Linked DNA regions of Homo sapiens. The protein of the gene in region 2 purifies or fractionates together with the protein of the main gene of each other region. This does not show direct contact. Each region holds a gene or a part of one and is shown on either strand. Other genes may lie near its edges. The genes, in order: BRI3BP and SMPD3.

Evidence for each region.
Region 1: the proteins of SMPD3 (region 2) and BRI3BP purify together in Homo sapiens (affinity purification with mass spectrometry; one large-scale study listed by BioGRID and IntAct). This does not show direct contact.

The regions. Positions count from the first base shown.
Region 1 is NC_000012.12:124,996,446-125,000,264, reverse strand, and holds part of BRI3BP (BRI3-binding protein precursor), read right to left. Parts: intron 1-3,819. UniProt on the Homo sapiens protein: Involved in tumorigenesis and may function by stabilizing p53/TP53.
Region 2 is NC_000016.10:68,441,890-68,445,708, forward strand, and holds part of SMPD3 (sphingomyelin phosphodiesterase 3), read right to left. Parts: intron 1-3,819. UniProt on the Homo sapiens protein: Catalyzes the hydrolysis of sphingomyelin to form ceramide and phosphocholine. Ceramide mediates numerous cellular functions, such as apoptosis and growth arrest, and is capable of regulating these 2 cellular events independently.

The DNA.
Region 1 (3,819 bases), on a different chromosome or scaffold from region 2:
GTATGTCAAAAGGTGTCAACCTGTACACTTTAAATACGCACAGTCTATTGAGGTGTAGTGCAATTACACCTCAAAAAAGCTGTTAAAATGTTGGTAGGGGAAAAAGGACTGGAAAGTGTCAAAGTTATTTTGCTCAAAATACTTTCTTGCAAACAGCAAAAAATGCAAACCTCTTTACAAAAAAAAAAAAAAAGCAAAAACAAAAGAACCCAACAGCTCAATAGAACGGCAAAAAAAAAAAAAAAAAAGAAAAACCAAAAGGCAGTTCCCAGAACATATCGATGGATTCTGAATAAATGAAAAGACCATCTGTCTCATACATAATAAAGCCAAAAAGTTTAATGAGGCTGGGTCGGGTGTCTCACACCTGTAATCCCAGCACTTTGGGAGGCCGAGGCGGGCGGATCACGAGGTCAGGAAATCGAGACCATCCTGGCGAACACAGTGAAACCCCGTCTCTACTAAAAACACACAAAAAAATTAGCTGGGCATGGTGGCAGGCGCCTGTAGTCCCAGCCACTTGGGAGGCTGAAGCAGAAGAATGGCATGAACCCAGGAGGTGGAGCTTGCAGTGAGCCGAAATTGCGCCACTGCACTCCAGCCTGGGCGACAGAGGGAGACTCCGTCTCAAGAAAAATAAATAAATAAATAAATAAAAATAAAAAATAAAAAACTTAGCAGGGCATGGCGGTGCAGACCTGTAATCCCAGCTACTTGAGAGGCTGATGCAGGAGGATCATTTGAGCCCGGGAGGTAGAGACTGCAGTGAGCCAAGATTGAGCTACTGCACTCCAGCCTGGGCGACAGAGGGAGACTCTGTTTCAGGGAAAAATAAAATAAAAATACAAAACAGTGCGCATAGTGCAAAATAAACAAAAACCAACAATAGGGAGCAGATCTATAGATCCATATATTTATACATGTTCAGAATATCTGGCTGCTTCGGGGAAGGGGGTGGTAGACGGGTCGGTAGTGGGAAGTGGAGTTAGTTTCTTAACCTTCAGAACTACATGAAATTGTATTCCATGCAACTACGACCAAGGAGCAAGGGAAAAAAGTACTAGTTTCTCGACCTGGCATTCAGGATGTTTCCACCACATCAGTCCAGCTATATTCTGCCTGAGAGGAATCATTTTCTCCACATACAGTAGGTGCTTGAAATTTTTCATTTGTTTGTTTTTTTTGGAGACAAAGAGTTTTGTGCTGTCCCTGAGGCTGGAGTACAGTGGTGTGATCACAGCTCACTGTAGTCTCAACCTCCCAGGATCAAGCGATCCTCCCTATGCAACCTCCCAAGTAGCTGGGACCACAGGTGTGCGCCACCATGCCTAGCCAAAGGTTTTGGTTTTTCGTAGAGATGGGGTCTCACTATGTTGCCCAGGCTGGTCTCAAACTCCTGGGCTCAAGCAATCCTCCCACCTAGGCCTCCCAAAGTGGTGGGATTACAGATGTGAGCCACTGCACCAGGCCAATTTTTTTAAAAAACTGTAGTCATATACACATAAAGTTGGCCATTTTAACCATTTTAAAGTGTACAATTCAGTGGCATGAGCACGTTCACAATATCATGCAACCATTATTATCTAGTTCCACAATCTGTCATCACCCCAAAAGGAAACCCTAGATCAATTAAGCAGTAATTCCCCCATTGCTCCCTCCCCCAGCCCCTGGCAACCACCCATCTGCTTTCTGTCTCTACGGATCTTCCTATTCCAGATATTTCATATGCTGTAAATGGAATCATATAATGTGTGCCCTTTCGTGACTGGCTTCTCTCATTTATTCAAGGTTCGTCCAAGTTGTAGCATATAGCAATACTTCATTCCTTTTTATGGCTGAATCATATTTCATTATACAGACACATCACATTTTATCCCTTCATCAGCTGATAAGACATTTGGGACATTTCCACTTTTTAGCTATTGTAAAAAGTGTTGCTATGAACACATGTGTATAAGTTGCTTAATAATTTTTTTTGAGACGGAGTCTCTGTTCCCCCGGCTTGAGTGCAGTGGGGCGACTCAACCTCACCGCAACGTCAGCCTCCCGGGCTCAATCTATTCTCCTGCCTCAGCCTCCCAAGTAGCTGGGATTACAGTCGTGCACCACCACGCCCAGCTAATTTTTTTTTTTTTTTTTTGAGACGGAGTTTCACTCGTTGCCCAGGCTGGCGCGCGCAACGGTGCAATCTTGGCTCACTGCAACGGCCGCCTCCCGGGTTCAAGCGATTCTCCTGCCTCAGGCTCCCAAGTAGCTGGGATTACAGGCATGCATCACCACGCCTGGCTAATTTTTTGTATTTGGTAGAGACAGGGTTTCACCATGTTGGTCAGGCTGGTCTTGAACTCCTGACCTCAGGTGATCCATCCACCTTGGCCTCCCAAAGTGCTAGGATTACAGGCGTGAGCCACCACACCTGGCCTAATTTTTGTATTTTTAGTAGAGACAGGGTTTCGCCATGTTGACCAGGCTGGTCTCGAGCTCCTGACTTCAGATGAGCTGCCCACCTTGGCCTCCCTAAGTGCTGGGATTACAGGTGTGAGCCACCATGCCAGGGCATCACTTAATAATTTTTAAAGGAATTAACAAGTCTATTACCTCCTACCAGACAAATTCCCTTCATATAGAAATATTCTACCATTTACTAAATGCTTATTCAGTCCCTGGCATTGTGCAGCCCAACCAATCTCCTTTAATTCCCCAATTTATCTCCTCTGAACAAATGGGACACAGATAAGTAAAGCAACTGGGTGGTGCACGGTGGTTCACGTCTGTAAATCCGGCACTTTGGGAGGCCGAGGCAGGCAGATCACCTGAAGTCATGAGATCGAGACCAGCCTGGCCAACACAGTGAAACCCTGTCTCTACTAAAAATACAAAAATTAGCTGGTCGTGGTGGCATCTGCCTGTAACCCCAGCTACTAGGGAGGCTGAAGCAGGAGAATTTCGTGAATCCGGGAGGCGGAGGTTGCAGTAAGCCGAGAGCTCGCCATTGCACTCCAGCCTGGGAGAAGAAGCGAGACTGCATCTCAAAAAAAAAAAAAAAAAAAGAGAAGTAAAGCAAAAAAAAAAGAGAAGTAAAGCAACTGGCTCAGGGTCACAGAGCGAGTGAGAAACAGCTAGGATTCAAACTCATGTCTGTTCCCATGCTCCAAACAGGATGGTCATAGGTGTATTTCAGACAAGTCCTAGATTAGAATATGGGAGGCCGGGCACGGTGGCTCAAGCCTCTAATCATAGCACTTTGGGAGGCTGAGGAGGGCGGATTACGAGGTCAGGAGTTCGAAACCAGCCTGGCCAACATGGTGAAACCCCATCTCTACTAAAAATACAAAAATTAGCCAGGCATGGTGGCACACACGCCTGTAATCCCAGCTACTCAGGGGGCTGAGGCAGGAGAATTGTTTGAACCTGGGCGGCAGAGGTTGCCATGAGCCAAGACTGAACCACTGCATTCCAGCCTGGGCGACAAAGCAATACTCCATCTCGGAAAAAAAAAAAAAAAAAGACTATGGGGTGTTTTTTTAAATACCATTAAACTTCACAAAGCAGGTTTGGCTCTAATTCGTAAACCCAGGCATGCTGAAAACTACAGTTGCTGGCAGACCCAGTTTTCCTTTATTTAAAATTCACAAAACAGGCTGGGCACGGTGGCTTACGCCTGTAATCCCAGCACTTTTGGAAGGCTGAGGTCGGCAGATCACTTGAGGTCAGGAGTTTGAGACCAGCCTGGCCAACATGATGAAACCTCATCTCTACCAAAAACATAAAAAATTAGCCGGATGTGGTGGTGCTCACTTGTAATCCCGGCTACTCACT
Region 2 (3,819 bases):
CAAGTAGTTGGGACTACAGGCATTCACCACCATGCCTAGCTAATGTTTTTATTTTTTATAGAGACGGGGTCTCACTATGTTACCCAGGCTAGTCTTGAACTCTTGGCCTCAAGCAAGCCTCCTGCCTCAGCCTCCCAAAGTGTTGGGATTATAGGCATGAGCAACCGTGCCTGGGCTATTTCAACTTAAAATTTGGGTTTTGCATTGGTATTGGATCAAAGAAGCCTATGTTAACGGAAATGTATCCTTTGGGTAATTAAATGAACAGAGCAACAGTTTAGGACAGTGGAAAGAACATGCTTTAGGCATTAAAAAATCTGGGTTCTAAGCCCCATCTTAGAACCACTAACCAGGGCTGTGGCCAGAGCAGCCCTCAACTTCCCTCGCTGTCTTTCCTCATGTTAAAAAGACATGATGGTTTATGATTATTAATATCCTTTCCATTTCTAAAGCTCTTTCTGCTTACAGCACACATTATTTCAGGGTTTCTGTGTCTGTTTCCTTGTTCCGTTCAAGATTTCTATAAGAAAGGACTTATCCCACATTGTGGTTGTGTTCCCCGTGCCCAGCGCTGTGGCTGACACATTTTTGTAGGCACAAGAAATGTCTGTTGAATGAATGGAAATCCAGTCCTCCTTTGAGGGACTCCTGGGCCTCCCAGTTCTTGCCAGAATGATCACAACAGCCTTAGCAATTAATTGCACTTTCTCATATTGGCCTAAAATCTTAACAATCTAAGCTTTCTAAAGGGTTATAGCCAGGATTAGAAACCATTTCCTGATCCTGTGTGCAAAGGAGGTGGTACTCAGCCCTAGGTGTGGCTGCCTAGAGACCCCCACAAATGGCCTCCTTCTTATTACACGCTGTTCTGATGCTGAGGAGAGTTAATTAATGACTCTAAATAAGAAAACAATCAAATCTGTCTGCAGTCATATGAGTCAGAGCAGACCCAGATGGGGTGCCGGGTCCTTGGCTTCCAAGCGCCCTCGGGAAAAGCAGTAGCAGCCTTTGCTCCTTTCATCAGAGCTCTGCGAAGCCCCAGCTTGGAAGGGGAAGGAATCACTCAAAATGGAATGGAGACTCAGCTTGATATGAAGAATTTTTCTTAAAAGTCTAACCCCTTATCTGAGTGTTGTACAGACTGAGGCCCAGGGAGAGGAGAAAAAACATAAGTTCATTCCTTTCTACCCTCTTTAGACATCCAAATCGAATGGGGAGTTCTCAGAAACCGGCCCCTGTGTGTGTTGCAAGATTGGAGCAGTTGGAACTGCCACTTTAGGAGGACAAGACTTGTGGTCTGAAATTCACCAAACCCCAAACCTGCCCACCTTCTGGAGTCTTGCAGCCACATATGGAGGTAGAGCTTTGGTTGGGTGGCATAAGGACAGGAATGTGATGCTTTCCTGAGATTGGCTGAGGCCCACACAGTGAAAATTTTATTTAGGTGTTAGAGGCTTTGCTATGAAAATCTGAGAGTGCAAATAGGTGGAAGGAATCTCTTAACAATATCTGAGTGTCTTCAGCTTTGGAATAGGCTGCTAGGAAATAAAGATAAGCTCTATTTCTTTGGCTGTATGTGTACTCTTTGTCAAATAACAGCTTCCTCATGTTTTTTTTCCTTCCTTTCTTAAAAACGAAAAACAATGACAACACTTTGTTGCCATCTACGCTTGGCTTCCTGTGAAAATTTTCCACAGTGGAAAGAAACCCCTGGGCTACTGGTCATGAAGGTCATTATACTACCCTTTCCCCATTCTTTGGTAACCAAGTTCAGTTAACAAAGCTGGATAAGATATAAAGTAGGTGGCACTATCCTTGCTGAACTTGGAAAGACTGATTTGTGTCTAAATCCTAGTGGGTCCGCAATCCTATTCCTCTGGCATTTGATTATAAACTTACATAGAATAATCCAATAGTTCAGTTTTATTTCTGTAATAGCAATAGGGAAAAAACAGTGGTAAGGAGGAACTTCCAGAGTTTGAGATCCAGGATGGAACCTAAATTCTTCCCCTTCTGTGTAACCTTGGGAAAGCCCTCAAAGCTTGGTTTCCTCACCTTGAAAGTGGGAATTATGCCACCACCTACCTCACAGGACTGTGAGGATTAAATACATTCTTACATGTGAAGAGCCTGAGTCAGAAAATGTTTCCTCTTATTAGCTCATAATTCTTTAAACAGGGATTGCTGATGAGTTTGTTCGAAGTAATGCAGTAATATCCACCACAGCTCTGTTTCCTCCTATTCCATTCTGTAATCAGCTTTGGGGAAATCCTCTTGGAGGCCATGGCCCTCAGCTCTTGCTTCTGGTCCACACCCAGAAGTCCTCCCTTCCCACCAGGTGGGTGAGGCCAGCACTCCAGAACCTTGGACAGCTCTCCTCCACAGTGATCCAGCTGGCTGCCCCAGGGAGCAGGAGGGTCTTGGGAAATTTTCCGAGAAAAGCTGCATTAGTGCAGTGATTTAGGAATACCAGGGCTGCAGTCTCATTTCCAGCATGCATGCTGCCACTTGCATGCGTGTTCAGATTCTTCAACATGACCAGCCCTTCTGGAAATTTCTAAGGAGCCTCTCAGAACTGCTCACAAGATTTACCAAATCTTAGGGCCTTTTCCTTCTTTTCTATGAACTCCAAGAATTTTTTTTGAGCCCAAAAAGAACAGAAACACCACCCACATCTTCCTGAATCTGCTGATATTTAATTTGTTTGGCTTCAGTACAAGGATTAAACATTCTTGATTAACTTCAAGTGAAAGTAATAATGTATGAGCATGAGGAAATGTTTTACAAGACAAAGATACAGGTATAAATTAAAAGAAACATAAAATAACGTTATTGCCTGTAGGTGATGTTAAGCACCATTCTAATCAGGATAAGCAGGTGGTTCAATTTATGAGGCAATTTAGCTTTTCACTCTCCAATGCAGAATACAACACACCATATGCAGTCACCTTCCAAACAGGCAAGGAAGAGATTAAGTCCTATTTTTACTTTATGATACTGAGTCACATAGTTCAATGCAAATCACATGGATGCCAAAGTAAGAACAATACCAGGTATTAAAATACCTTCTTTCCTTTGCAGAGCTGCAGAGCTCTTAGGATTTTGTGACTGCAAGAAATTCCTTCAGAGTAACTCCAGGAGAAGAGACACATGTCACCAGATGGGTATTTAGGACTGAGCATGTCTTATCTCTCTCCCCCACTTCTGTCATTAGGCCTGGAAAGCCGTATTTGCAGCTTTTTGCATTTGGTAATAGCCTCCAGAAGCCTTCATTTTCTGGGCTACATTGTTTTTGAGGAAAAGAGGGCTTGCCTTTGAAAAATGTTATTGACTAATTTAATAATGACAGAAAGAAGAGGATAAATGTGGAACAGGGAAAGAGGAGAAAAGAGTAGTAGAGGTAGAGGTAGAGACAGGAGATGCCTAAATCTCTTTGGCCTTGATAAGTGTTTTCCATGCATTGTCCTTATAAATGGGTTTGATGCCCACCTTCCACTGGTCAGAAACTTGAACAAAGACCTTCAAGCCCTCTTTAAACATTTCCATAGAGGTGAAGACAGCAGCAATTCCATGGCTTGAACTAGCTTGAAAGAACTTCAGACAAGAACATCAACTCAACACTCTGAAGGTAGGAGGGAGCCCCCCAATAGAAAGATTTGTGATTTTACCTGACAATGCTCACACTCACTCTGAGCCTCTACACCATGGGGGAGTGTTAGTTGCCAAATTGTGACTGGTTTAACCTCTTTCCAGCAGAGGTCGCTGTGGACACTGGGAGTGGATACTTGTGGGAACTGGATCAGGCAGCCTGGGCTAGAT